Homo sapiens: one gene and its partners. The protein of the gene in region 3 interacts with the protein of the main gene of each other region in a pairwise test. Each region holds a gene or a part of one and is shown on either strand. Other genes may lie near its edges.

Region 1 (3,328 bases), on a different chromosome or scaffold from region 3:
ATGCTGTCTTCAGGAGCCTGACCCTCCTGCCAGCCTCAAAGGGGAGCTCTCCTTCCCAGAAGGCCCTCTGTGCACTGAGAAGGCCCTCAGGTCTGAAGCCTCCAGTGGACTTCCACTCCAGCCTGCGTCTGAGCACCAGAGTGCTTGGCTCCCAGCCACTTCTGGGCCCTTCTCCCCCTGGGAACTCTAGGGTGGGCCGGCCAGAAGGTCTGAGCATGGCAGAAGGTATTGAGCATATCCCCAGGCCCACACCCCACTGTCATTCTCCCTGTGTTCATTGTTAGCCAAGGCGTGCCTCCCTGAGGCCCAGGTTCCTGCACTGCACCCCCTGTGTCCCAGACAGGGTGAGGGAGGTCAAGGGAGTTTCAAAGGAGCCACGTTTCTGAGAGGAGAGCAGGAAGATGACCGTGCCTTCATCAGAGGGAAAAAGTGCATTCAGAAGAACTGCAGCCTGTTCCTCTGGGGACCCTCAGGGAAATGGTCATTCAATACAAGAGAAGTGACAGACCAATGGTTTATTCCAAAGGGGAAAGCCCAAGCTGGATGTCTCCCTCCCCAACCCCTGCAAGCTGGCCCATCCTTCCAGAGCCCCCATAGGCCTGGGGCTGTTGAGACGGGAGATGTCCCCACTGTGCTGCTCCTGGTTTTGTCTCCTCTCCAATCCTTGAGCACCCTGATATGCAACATGGGGGGTAATCAGAAGGAGGAGGCAGCCTCTGATGGGGCAACGGCTGAGGGTGGGGGCAGTGTGTAAGGCACCTTTTGCGGTCAGCCCAGCCACACTCCATCGCCAGAGAGAATGCCAAAGTGTAGACTGAATGAAATTCTGTAGGCAAATGGTAAATGGTAGCTGGGCCAGTAGCTATTTGCATGGGTGGATTATATCATGTTAAGGGAATTCTTTATCTCAGCAGAGGGAACAGAGGAATATCTTGGCTAAGGTCATCCTGCCAGTCAGGAGAAGCCACCCTCCAGGGACCACAGACTCAAAGTGGCTGTGGTGGAGACCCACCGCCTGGGTAGGGTGATGTCAAGACACTGAGAGGTTTCCATCTGCAGTGGCCAAGGGCTGCAGGTTCTGCCATGCTGGGCATTGATAGGTAGGACGAGAGAGAGCACGTAGGGCCAGTCCTCTGGGAAGCAGGAGGTGGGCCATGTGAATGGGAGATGGGTGGCTGTGCTGTCCAGGCATCTGCTGACAACATTGGGGGATAGGGCCTTGGAGAGAAACGTCTATAGGCCTGGAGACAGCAGGGCGTGGGCGGGAGAGGCAGGCTGATACCATGCGGGTACTCACTGCTAGCCCCCAGATCCAGCCCGAGAGGAGGAGGCTGGCGGGTTAGGGCAGGCCCCAACCTATCTCACCCCTGTGATGGGTTGGCCTCTGAGCACAGGAATGATGGTGACCATCTGAGGTCACAAGGCAGGAAAGGAGTCTGAATGGAGTGTGGCCAGTGGGGAAGTCGGAGAGGCCGGAACTGCCCCCAAGAGGCTGGCAGAGGGCTGCAGAGGGCAGGTGCAGGACCAGGCTCCCTCCCACCCAGACAAGCACAGTAGCTTAGAAGGCAAGAGCAGCAGGGTCAGGAGGAAGAGCAGGGGTGTGGCGCCTCGTTCCTTCCGCCAGGAGCTCATGGGGCTTCGTTGGACCCAATCCCGTTGCCTTTGTTGACGTAGAATGGCCGGTAGTGAGACTGTGGGGGAAACAAGAGTGGTCAGCGAGGCCAGACGACAGATGAGCCTGCTAGCTAGACCCACCCTACCCTAACCTGCCTCAGGAGGCAGCAGTGATCCAAGACCCGACAATTCTAGGGGCCTTTTTGGCCTGATCTGCAAGATTTACCTACCCTGTGATCAGGGGCTGGTCCCTAATGTCAGGATCTCCAGATTGGAATCCTAATTGGAGTCCATTCCCATAGTTAGTGGGTGAGCTTGAACCTCAGCCCCCGCATTACACTGGTCGAAATTTCTCTCCACAGCTCAAGGAGGTTCCTCCAGCGCCACCACAGCTACTATTTATATAGCACTTTCTACTCCACAGAACTTCACAGCACTGTGTCGAGGGCTGTATGTGGATGCACTCATTTAATTTTTACAACCACCCAATTAAATAGATTACTATTATCATATTCAATTTATAGTTGAGCAAACCAAGGCACAGAGAGGCTAGGCAACTTGCCCAAGGTCACTCAGCTGGTAAGCAAGGAGCCAGAATCCAAGCCCCAGCAGGCTGCCTCCAAAACCCACACCCCCAGCTGCCAGTTCTCGGCATCACTTCTCTTATGGTGAGGGCTTCCAGGATTTTCTTTGCCTCTCTCTGCATAAATTTCCCTTACAGAAAGGGTGCAGAGAGGGTAAAGAACTGCCCCAGTCCAACACGGTCCCAGGCTCCCCACAGCCCTTTGCCTCTCTCGTCCTGTTCCTCTTCCCCCAGCCATTGGTACAGGGAGCATCTCTGGAGAGAGAGCCCAGTGACAGCTCTCCCAGCCTTCTCCATGTATTGTATCTCCCAGTAATTTCATGAAATCAGCATGCCCCACCCTGCCCAGATAACTTCATCAGGGCCCTGAGGAGGCAGCCCTCCAGGATGGAGTGGAAGAGCACAGCTTAGCTGCTGCTCACCCACGCAAGCACCATCAGCCCCCGGGGGTCTCAGGAAGAGGATTTGTCCCTGAGCTGGGTCAGAGACTGAGCCCACTCCCATGCCCTGCAGATCCCAATACAGGAGACATCATTTGCCCCTCACACACACACCTCAAGGGTACACTGCCTTTGGCCCTGTCTCTCAGGGAACTGACACCTCCTGGTCAGCTCCTTGCCTTTGTGTGGTCCACAGCAGGACTTGAGGGATGCTCAGACCTTGCTTAAACCACCTATTAAACAAAGGAAGAAACTGAGACCCAGGGAGGGGTAAGAACAGCTACTTACTGGCAAAGCAGAGCCTGGACCAGGTCTCCTGACCCCCAGGGGCCAGCCTGGACCCCAAGCAATTCATAGGGCAAAGTGAACAGATTTGGAAATGGCTGAAGCCTTTCTTTGAGGAAGATTGGGTCAATAATATGGGTTGCAGGTCAATGAATGGCATTGTCTGGTTAAAAGCCTGGAGTGGTAGGTGGGCATCAGGGCAAAATGCTACCTTCACCCTCCCATCCCCTCCCTGGCTTGAGGTCACAGCACATACAGCAGGTGGAAGAGCTGCAAAATCATCCTAATTATGGATGGGAAAACTGAGGCACAAAGGAATCATTTTTCCTCATGCAAAGTCACACAGCAAGTCAATGAGACAGCTGGGGCCAGCCCCCAGGGAAATTGATTCCCAGCTCAGCTTCTC
Region 2 (4,070 bases), on a different chromosome or scaffold from region 3:
ACTAAAACTCCAAAATTAGCGGGGCGTGGTGGCACGTGCCTGTAATCCAGCTACTCGGGAGGCTGAGGCAGGAATCACTTGAACCCAGGATGCGGTGAGCTGAGATTGTGCCATTGTACTCCAGCCTGGGCAACAAGAGCGAAACTCCATCTCAAAAAACAAACCAACCAACCACCAGGTCCCGTCCCTCCTCCTCCCACAGCCTTCCAGGGCTCCTACCTCACTCAGAGCAAAATCCCAAGTCCTCCCCAAGACCCACAAGTCCTTGCTGGACTGGCCTGCTTCACCAGCTACAGAGTTAGCAGGGCCCAGTGCAAAAGAAAACTCAAAGGCCCCTTGTTCAAAAATGATTAGAAATCTCAAAATGCAGCAGTAAATATTAACCCAAGCACAAGCCCTGCTGTGGGGTGGGGGGGCCCTGGACAAAAGCACGAAGCCCCCGGCCCTGCCTCCCTCCGGCCTTCCTGACCTCCCCCCGGGCACTCTGCTGCCAGGCACAGTCCTGCCCCAGGGCCTTTGCACCTGTTGGTCCTGCCTCTGACTACCTCTGTACCCCATCCCCCTGTTCTCCCTCCTTCTTCAGGTCGCTTTAGGGGTGGAGGAAGCCGTCTCTGATCCTCCCTCCCACCTCTTTAACTTTGCACCTTCCTACCCTGCCATTCTCCCGGCTGGTTTTTCTGCAGAACTGTCCCCACCATCTGACCTGCCAGGAATTCAGCTTGTGAATTTGTCTCTGTCTGTCTCCAGGCACCACCACCAGGGCAGGGACCCACCCCCGCCCCGCCCCACCCCAGGGCCCTGGAGCAGCGGGGCCTGGCACACAGTAGGCGTTCTATAAATGTGTCACAAGAATGGCTTCCCTCAGGAAGGCGGCATTACCGCTGCCTTTCTGCAGAAAAGGAAACTAAGGCTCAGCAAGAACCACCGCCCAGCCAGAGCCAAGGTCACAGAGCACGTCCGTGGCACGCGTCCAGGTCGTGCCACAGCAGGGCCGGCGGCTTCGACGCGGGCAGCCGGGTCCCTTTTCTTTGACAGATGGGGAAACCGAGGCCCGGCCGGCTGCCGGGTAGGAGAGGGTGGCGGGGGCCGCTGCCCGGGGCGGGGGCGGGCCGGGCCCAAGGTCACCGCGGCGGGCGGGCCACGGGGAGGCGGGCCGGCGTGGGGATCCGCAGGCCTCCCCGGGCGCGCGCGTCCCCCCCCTCGGCGGCGCGCACGGGGCACGGGCGGCGGCAGGTGGAGCCGAAGCCTCCGCAGCAGCCGAGCCGCGGCCACTGCCGGCGTCGCCGCCATTAGACAATAGCGGTGGGGCCGGGGAGCGGGGAGGCGGGCGGCGGGGAGGGGCGGGGAGGGGCGCCGGGCGCGCAGGAAGCGGGGCCCGGGGCGCGCCGGGGCCGGGCGCGCGGGGAGGGGGCGCAGGAAGCGGGCGAGGCCGGGCGCGGGAGGCGGCGGCGGCCCCGGGAGCTGCCGATCGGCGCCGGGACAAAGGCGCGGCCGCCCGGCGCCCCCAGCAGCCCGAGCCGGGGCGCACAGCCGGGGCGCAGCCCGCGCCCCCCGCCGCGATTGACATGATGTTTCCACAAAGCAGGCATTCGGTAAGCGGGGCCCGTCCGGCCGGCGCCCCCACCCCGGATCCGGGCCCTACGCCCCCGACCCCCGGCTCCCGGCCCCGCGCCCCCCAACCCCCAGGCCCGGTGCCTCCGGCCCGGCGCCCCCCCCAACTCCCCGGCCCTGTCTTCCCTCTCCAGCTCCCAGCCCGGCGCGACCCCCCTCCCCTCCTGCCGCCGGCCCCCGGACACCCCCCCTCCAGTTCCCGATCCACCCCAGCTTCCGGGCCCCGAGCCCCCCCGCCGCAGCTCCCGGCTTGGCGCCCCCCCCCCCCAACCCGCCGGGACAGTCAGGGCCTCGGACGGCCTTGGCCTCGGGCCTGGGGCGCTCCGGAAGCCCCGCGAGGCACCTCTAGCCCGGGGATCCTTTGGGGGCCTGTGGTGGGGGGGGTGATCCGAGGCGCACCCCTCCCGGAAGAGCGTGTCCCCGAGGAAGGGCGCTGGGAATCTGGGGTTGGGCCCCCCCGGAAGATTTCGAGCACCGAGAGAGAGACCCCTCCCCCAAGAGGACTTTGCAGGGAGGAATCGCTGCCCCCCAACTTGGGGAGGGGGCTCCCTAGGGCGCGTTTCTACCCCCCTCGGATGTGCACTCCCTCCCGGCGCTTTGGAGGGCGGTAGAGGGCGCACCCTGCCCCCCATCTAGGGCGGGCCTTAAAACGCACCCCCACTGCCTGGGGGTGGCGGGGGACGGGGCGGCTCCGGGCGCACCCACCCGCTCGGCTTCCCCCGGGAGAGGCGGGGGGCAGGAAGCGCGGGTGGGGTCGCGCCAGGGGCCGTAAACACGGGCCCAGGAAGTGGGGCAGGAGGGGGGGCGCCGCAGCTGCGCGGCCGCTCCCTCCTAGCCGGCCCTTGAGGGGGGTCCAGCCCACGCCTGGGCCTGACCCGGGCCGCCCCATCCCTACAGGGCTCCTCGCACCTACCCCAGCAACTCAAATTCACCACCTCGGACTCCTGCGACCGCATCAAAGACGAATTTCAGCTACTGCAAGCTCAGTACCACAGGTGAGCTGGGGGACTGGGGGTCCCTGCGTCCCGAGAATGTGAGTCCCCCCATTTCTTCTGCGCAGATGGCAAGGCTGAGGCCTGGAGATTGGGAAAATAATATATGCTAGACTCTGACCTAATCACTTGACAAATACTGAATTCATTTATTTTAAACAGCCCCATTTTGTAGAGGAGAAAACCGAGGCACAAAAATAGTTAAATAATTTGCCCAAAGATTCAGCTGTGTGGCTTCAGAGCCCCTCCCTCCTCCCCAATACCCCCAAGTCCCCCATTGGATAAAAGACCTTCCAACAATTGGAGTTACGGCACGGACTCGCCATCCCTCAACCCCCAAAACAGAAACATTCTGCAGCCTGGTCATCTCTCTCTTTGCCCAGTTTTGGAGAAAGGGTTCCCAGCACCCGTCAGATTCTCCAAGGTGCTGCTTCTTTCAGAAATCTGGCGTTTCTGAAGAGCTTGCCACGCTGCGGTATCTAAGGGGAAGGAACTATTTAGTCCTCTTACACTTAAAGAAACTTAAGCCCAGGCCAGGCGTGGTGGCTCATGCCTGTAATCCCAGCACTTTGGGAGGCCGAGGAAGGTGGATCACTTGAGGTCAGGAGTTCGAGACCAGCCTGGCCAACATGGTGAAACCCCGTCTCTACCAAAAATACATAGTTAGCTGGGTGTGGTGGCGGGCGCCTGTAATCCCAGCTACTCGGGTGGCTGAGGCAGGAAACTTGCTTGAACCCGTGAGGCGGAGGTTGCAGTGAGCAGAGATGGAGCCACTGCTCTCCAGCCTGGGTAACAGGGAGACTCTGTCTCAAAAAAAAAAAAAAAAAAAAAAAAGAAAGAAAAAAAGAAACTTAAGCCCAGAGATGTTATGATGTTATTTCCTCGGGGGTGTCCATAGCATTGAGGAAGTGGCAAGGCTGAGGTTTGCACCAGGTCTCTCTCCTGGTTTAAGGATATAGGTTCTCGCCTGCCCTGCTCTGGAGGGGCACGCCGGGCCTGGGAATCTGGAGAAAGTCAGGCTATGCTCAAACCCCCGTTTGGCCTTGGGGCCCTCTCTAAACTGAAGCGTGCCCACCCCAGAAGTGTTCCTGGAAGGATCCTGGATTTCCTCCAAGTAGAAAGGGGAATCTCGATTTTGTTGTTGCTGCTGCAAATATCCCACCTTTTTGGGTACTCCCTGTGTGCTCAAGACCGTTCGTGCCTCCTCGTGCTTCATCCTTCCTGTCGTCCGACTGTCGTACCCATTCTCAAGCTGGGCAAACTGAGACACTGACAGTCGAAGGTGCTGGAGTCAGCTTTCCATGCAGGCCCCAGAAGCTTTTGTGCGGGTTCCTCGATATGAAGGGTTGGATACCGCCTGGTGAGCCCCGGGGCTGACCTGATTCCACAGGGAAGGGATCAGATGGCGGTCACAGTGCTGTGTGACCTCTGCTAAGCCGGAAGCCCTCTCTGAGCTTTGGGGTCTCC
Region 3 (3,338 bases):
GAGGGTGGAAGGCACCACAATGTGGATGACTCATCAACATGGAAAACTCTTAAAAACATACTGCCAAGTGAGACAAGAGAGTACACGCTGTACAGTTCCATTCACAGAAAGTCCAAAAACAGGTAAAACGAAACTGCAGTGTTCAAGGATACGTGCAAGGGTGGTAACTATCCAGTGAGGCAAAGCTTTTCTTTGTTATGGTGATGGCCAAAGAAGTCAGGAGAGTGACTACCCCTGGGGCAGTGAGGCATTTGGGAGCAGGAAGGGACATCTGAGGAGGAAGTTCTAGGGTATCAGCAATCTCCTATTTGATGATCTAGATGGCAGTGACATGGATATTTACTCTAGTATTATTTGCTATGTCATGCATTTGTTTCATGTACTTTGAACGTTATGTCTTAGCACTTTTTTTTTTTTTTGAGACGGAGTCTTGCTCTGTCGCCCAGGCTGGAGTGCAGTGGCGTGATCTCGTTTCACTGCAACCTCCACCCCCCAGGGTTCAAGTGATTCTCCTGTCTCAGCCACCTCACTAGCTGGGACTACAGGCATGTGCCACCATGCCCACTTAATTTTTCTATTTTTAGTAGAGACACGGTTTCACCACATTGGTCAGGCTGGTCTCGAACTCCTCACCTCAGGTGATCCACCCATCTGGGCCTCCCAAAGTGCTGGGTTTACAGGCTCGAGCCACCACGCCCGGCTGTCTTAGTACTTATTAAAATTCCAAAACAAAACATGAAAGAGAAAAAAAAAGAGGACTGAGGACCGGCAACCTGCTTGGCAACTCACCCAGGCTTGTGCACAATGTCCCTCAGCACCCGCACAGCGTCATCGTTGCTCATGTTCTCAAAGTTCATGTCATTCACCTGGAAGCGACGGCAAGTGGGTCAGAGACACGGTGGGAGAGGCTGAGGGCCCCCGTGCAGGGCAGCTCAGTGGCCCTACCCCAGCACACCTGCAAAAGCATGTCCCCTGGCTCAATGCGCCCGTCGGCCGCCACAGCCCCACCCTTCATGATGGAGCCAATGTAGATGCCTCCGTCTCCCCGCTCATTGCTCTGGCCAACAATGGAGATACCCAGGAAGTTGTACTTCTCTGTGGAGAGAGGCCATGTGAAAAGAGGAGCCCCTGCCACAGGACGCCCGGAACCCTAGAGACCAGGCCCTCCCCACGCCCTAGCCACAGGCTCTCCCCATACCCATGTTTAGCGTGACTGTGATGATATTGAGAGACATTGTGGAATCTGTGACGCTGCTGAAGGATGACGTCTGTGGTGGGAAAAGGAGCCAGAGTGCCCTTCAATAACCCAGGGTCAACCCTGGGGTGCTGCCGGTGTCCTGGCACCGCCCAAACCAAAGCCCATGCCCCACCTTCTCCCAGCACCAGCCTTCCTGTAGGAACCCCTCACCCTCTCCAGGCGGGGTGGCCTCTGCTTCCTTCGCCGCCGGTGGCGCTTAAGGAGGCGGGAGGCACTGCTCTGCTCCGTGGAGCTGCTGAACCTACCAGGAGGTTGGGAAGGAGAGCAAACGTAGGCCAAAGTGGTCATGGGGCCAAGAGAAAGAACAAGAGGATTGACTGGAAGACGAGACGGGGCTGGGTGCGCTGGGGAGAGCTGTGCGGAGCCACACCTGCTCATGGTGTCCTCCTCGTCCGAGTCCCCCAGGCTGGTACTCTCCAGCTCGCTGGTCATGAGGGTAGAGGAGCTCTCGTATCCGGCCAGGTGGCGCTCCAGCCTTGAGGGGCCACCAGTCCTGTGGCCCCCAGCTACATATGGACAGGAAGCTCAAGAACCAAGCTTCCCCCTGCTCACCCCACCAAGGCTGGGGTCTGGCCCAGCCCTTCCCGGCCCCCAGGCCTGCCCCTCACCGCCATGCTCACTGCTGTCTCTCCTGCGAGGCCGCTCCCGCCTCAGTGACACTACTGACTCGGTTTCTGTCTCAGGCTCCAGATTCTCATGGCTGCTGGACACATTAGGGCTGGACAGGCAGAGATGGTTTCCAACCCACATCAGGAGAACAGGGCTCCGGATCCTAGGCGTCCCCTACCAAAGGCCTGGGTTCCCTCCTCACCTCCCTCCCCTGCAGTCAAGAATCTGAAGGACTCACTGGAAGGATGGAGGCCTTGAGTCCCCAATGCCGCTGGTCCTCTCGGGTGGCAAAGGAGGTAAAGGTGGGGCTGGAGGCGCCAGTTCTGCCCGAGGCTCATGGACTGGAGGGGCCATCTCGGGTTGGGGATTATCTGAGGACACCAGCTAGAAGGGTGCAAATGATAAACAGTGGCTCACTTGGGAGTCAGGGTGTGACAGGTGGCAGTAAGTGAAAGAATGAGAAAGGGTCTCAGAGAGCTGGAGAAGAGCAAAAAAACCTAGCAAGTATTAGAGACTCCAGAAGGAGAAGGCTGAGGGCCTCTCGCCGGCTCTCCAAACAGACAGGAGGTAAAGAGCCAGGGCTGCTAACGCGCGGCCTGGGGAGGATACAGAAACAGACTGAGGCTTGAGGGAGCTTGGCAATGCTGAGGGGGCCTGGTCCTCGGTGTCAGAACCTCTTACCCAGGATACCACCCTTCCGTTGAAGCAGGGGAGGCGGGCGTTGTCATCTGAAATTTCTTCCTTCACCACCCTGCCAAGCGACAAGGTAGAGGTCAGTGAGCTGGACCAACCATCCCCACCCCGACCCCCATCAAACTTTCTCCCAATCTTCACCTGGCTCCAGGATGTTGACTTTCTCCTGCCCTGTTCAGGTCTTCTCTTACATTGAAAGAACTCACTCCGACACCTAAGAAATCTCCAAACTCAATCCCCTTTCCTTATTTCTCCTCTCCCTAACGCACCCTCAGGGGCACAGTGCTGCTCCAAAGACTTCCTTGAGTCTGACTCAAACCTCTTAGTCCAGTTTCAAAAGCAATCCCGCACGCTGATGCGGCTGCCTGAGATACCTATCTAATGAGACTGGCTGGTGGCCTCCTCTCAACCCCACCCCTGTTCCTTACAAACCTTCCAAAAAGGTCAGGCACGGTGGCTCACACCTGTAATCCCAGCACTTTGGGAGGCTGAGGCGGGCGGATCACCTGAGGTCAGGAGTTCAAGACCAGCCTGGCCAGCATGGTGAAACCCCATCTCTACTAAAATACAAAAATTAGCCGGGCATGATGGTGGGTGTCTATAATCCCAGCTACTCAGGAGGCTGAGATGGGAGAGTCGCTTGAACCCGGGAGACAGTGGTTGCAGTAAGTCGAGATCGCGCCACTGCATTCCAGCCTGGGCGGCTCAAAAAAAAAAAAAAAAAAAACCTTCCAAAAAAGGCTTTGGTCCTCATCAAAGCCTCTACTCTTATACTTTC
Region 4 (3,248 bases), on a different chromosome or scaffold from region 3:
GAACATTTTTATGATATGACCAAATTAAAGGAAATAAAAGTGAATGAGTTGAGAAAATATCATGAAAAGAGAAAAGAAGGAAAAGAAAAAGAAATACATGGACAGAAGCAAAATATGTTCATAGAGAAGTACATATAATGATCAAGAGAAACAGATACATGATGATATACTGAGAAATAGTATATAATTCACAAGTAACATAGACCGTGATCCATATTTTTCCTGTTATGCTCTTGGTCTTATAAAGCTCTTTTACACTTTTATAGAAAGTTAGCTATAGTTCTAGAGACTACTTCCACAGAATACTCATCTCTGTTCTAAAACTCATCTATTTAAAAGATTCATAGATGCAGTATCACTTAAGGTGTGAATTGTCCCTATAGTAAACCCAAGAATAACTTACCGTTAATTTTTTGGTTTGTTTGTTTTGTTTTGTTTTGTTTTTCCTGACACAGAGTCTTGCTCTGTCACCTAGGCTGGAGTGCAGTGGCGTGATCTCAGCTCACTGCAACCTCCACCTCCTGGGTTCAAGCAATTATCCTGCCTCAGCCTCCCGAGTAGCTGAGATTACATGTGCCTGCCACCATGCCCGGCTAATTTTTGTATTTTTAGTAGAGACGGGGTTTCACCATGTTGGCCAGGCTGGTCTCAAACTCCTGACTTCGTGATCCGCCCGCCTTGGCCTCCCAGAGTGCTGGGATTACAGACATGAGCCACGGAGCCTGGCCACAATTAATTTTTAATAAATTTCTACATATTCTGCCTTCAGTTTTGTTCTGGAAACATCTCCATCTGTCGTATATAAAATTGTAAATTTCCCTCACCCCATGAACAGCACTCCCTAACCCTCTTTCCTGCCCTAGCGTATTGTAGACAAAGGACAGCTTATAATAAAGAAGGGCGGTTCAATTCCAGCACAGTATAGAGTGGGATTTGTGAAGACTGGATCATAAATGGATCTTGGAAACCAGGCTTGGGAATTTAGACTTGAACAAAAAAAGAGAGAGAGAGATTCAAGGTTTTTGAGTAGGGTATGAAAGGATGGCAGTGTTTAATGACCATTAGTCTAGTAAGGATCTTTAGGATAACTAGGAAGAAGAAAAGTGCAGAGTCAAAACAGCAAGGAGGCAGTTAAAGTCTAGATAGGAAATGGTAAGGTTCGAGACTATGGCGATGGTAGCAGAAATATAAAGGAAGGGATTTATACAAGGGACACTTAGTGGACAGTGATGACAGAATTTAGAAGACTGATTAACCATGGAATATGAGGAAGAAATAGACAATAGGTGGATGGAAGTTTTCTCACACATACTTCACAGTCACTTATAGCTTTACTTTTCTCTCTTGTGTTCTCATCTGCTTTCTTTGAGGTAGTGCCTCCATTTTCCCTCTAGAAATGTATCATAGACCCAAGGTTCCCAAGATCTGCTGCAGTCAACATTGTAGAGTTCCTTCTCCGTACTCTATCTCCCCCTATCTCTTGAGTTCTTGCTGATGACAATCCTCCCAATCTTTTCTAATATATATGCTTCACGTCTGATTCCTCTCTCTGCCAACCACTGCAGGCATTACTTGCTCTTACCAATGTTTCTTTCATTCCTATCATCCTCTTTCATTCTATCATTCCTCTCATGTGAAAGGTCATATATTAAAGTGGGCATATCAATATGTAACTATCTTGAGCATGCTATAAAATTTTCTTTTCGTGCAGCAAACAGGTAATATTTCCCTTTCTTTTTTATTTTAGATAATGAGAGTGAAAACAGTAGATCCATGCCAAAGCTGGAAATTTTTGAAAAAATTGAATCACAGAGAATTATATCTGGAAGAATCTCAGGATACATATCAGAAGCATCTGGTGAGTCTCAAGACATCTGTAAGTCTGCAGGCAGGGTAAAGAGACAATGGGAAAAAGAATCAGGGGAGTCTCAGAGACTCTCGTCTGCCCAGGATGAAGGTTTTGGTAAAATCCTCACCCACAAAAATACAGTCAGAGGTGAAATAATAAGCCACGATGGATGTGAGAGGAGATTAAATCTGAACTCAAATGAATTCACACACCAGAAATCTTGTAAACATGGTACCTGTGACCAGAGCTTCAAATGGAACTCAGATTTTATTAACCATCAAATAATTTATGCTGGAGAAAAAAATCACCAATATGGAAAATCTTTCAAGAGCCCAAAACTTGCTAAACATGCAGCAGTTTTCAGTGGAGATAAAACTCATCAGTGTAATGAATGTGGGAAAGCTTTCAGGCACAGCTCAAAACTTGCTAGGCATCAGAGAATCCACACTGGAGAGAGATGCTATGAATGTAATGAATGTGGGAAAAGCTTTGCAGAGAGCTCAGATCTTACTAGACATCGGCGAATTCACACTGGGGAAAGACCCTTTGGTTGCAAAGAATGTGGGAGAGCATTCAACCTGAACTCACATCTTATCAGGCATCAGAGAATTCACACCAGAGAGAAACCCTACGAGTGTAGTGAATGTGGGAAAACCTTCCGAGTGAGCTCACATCTTATTCGACACTTTAGAATTCACACTGGAGAAAAACCCTATGAATGCAGTGAGTGTGGAAGAGCCTTCAGTCAGAGCTCAAACCTTAGTCAACACCAGAGAATTCACATGAGGGAAAACCTATTAATGTAAGGAACTTAAATTTGTAAGTAAATGCTGAGGAAATGGCACAATATGAAAAATATTAAATAAAAAATAAATATTGGGCAAGATGGAAGACTGAAAGACCAGTTTCTGGTGTTCAATCTGTGTGTATGTGCTTTCTGTGAGACTGGGGATGTACCCCTTCTTTCATTGACTACTAAAGTCAAACCAAAAGAGCTACATTTAGGGGGGCTAATAGGGTAGTCTATGGCAGTGCAATGTAGAGAAATAGAGACTGTCTGGGGAAATAATCATGATTACAGTGTGGGAAGAAAAGGAAGATTTAGGTAAAGAGACTGATAATCAGTCCTAGTTTATTTTCCTAGTTAGTTTAGCACAAGAAGAGGTCAGCTAAACCCAGGAGTGAAATAGGTTGCACAGTGCACTGCAGAACAGTGTTTTCAGAGCATCCCTTTAAAAACTGAAGACCACAAAACTAAGATGCTCATGTTAAGTTAGAGAGTAATGTCAAATGAGGACATATGTAATGGTGGCATTCCTATATGAGGCCAAAATCTGTGTCCAGAGGTCATACCAGGAAGTAAAAAACCAGAAGAACACCCCAGGGAAGAGGCCAGAAT

Evidence for each region.
Region 1: the proteins of DVL2 (region 3) and TRIM29 interact in binary tests that used the Homo sapiens proteins (3 or more experiments, as listed by UniProt).
Region 2: the proteins of DVL2 (region 3) and TLE5 interact in binary tests that used the Homo sapiens proteins (3 or more experiments, as listed by UniProt).
Region 4: the proteins of DVL2 (region 3) and ZNF165 interact in binary tests that used the Homo sapiens proteins (3 or more experiments, as listed by UniProt).

What each region holds. Positions count from the first base shown.
Region 1 is NC_000011.10:120,110,786-120,114,113, forward strand, and holds the end of TRIM29 (tripartite motif-containing protein 29), read right to left. Parts: intron 1,692-3,328; coding exon 1,629-1,691; 3' UTR 501-1,628; downstream 1-500.
Region 2 is NC_000019.10:3,059,696-3,063,765, reverse strand, and holds the start of TLE5 (TLE family member 5), read left to right. Parts: upstream 1-1,270; 5' UTR 1,271-1,565; coding exon 1,566-1,592; intron 1,593-2,508; coding exon 2,509-2,606; intron 2,607-4,070. UniProt on the Homo sapiens protein: Transcriptional corepressor. Acts as a dominant repressor towards other family members. Inhibits NF-kappa-B-regulated gene expression. May be required for the initiation and maintenance of the differentiated state.
Region 3 is NC_000017.11:7,228,180-7,231,517, forward strand, and holds part of DVL2 (segment polarity protein dishevelled homolog DVL-2), read right to left. Parts: intron 3,016-3,338; exon of another isoform or gene 2,702-3,015; intron 2,619-2,701; coding exon 2,549-2,618; intron 2,252-2,548; coding exon 2,106-2,251; intron 1,977-2,105; coding exon 1,867-1,976; intron 1,765-1,866; coding exon 1,629-1,764; intron 1,500-1,628; coding exon 1,409-1,499; exon of another isoform or gene 1,371-1,408; intron 1,269-1,370; coding exon 1,199-1,268; intron 1,096-1,198; coding exon 956-1,095; intron 867-955; coding exon 790-866; intron 1-789.
Region 4 is NC_000006.12:28,086,816-28,090,063, forward strand, and holds the end of ZNF165 (zinc finger protein 165), read left to right. Parts: intron 1-1,747; coding exon 1,748-2,655; 3' UTR 2,656-2,748; downstream 2,749-3,248. UniProt on the Homo sapiens protein: May be involved in transcriptional regulation.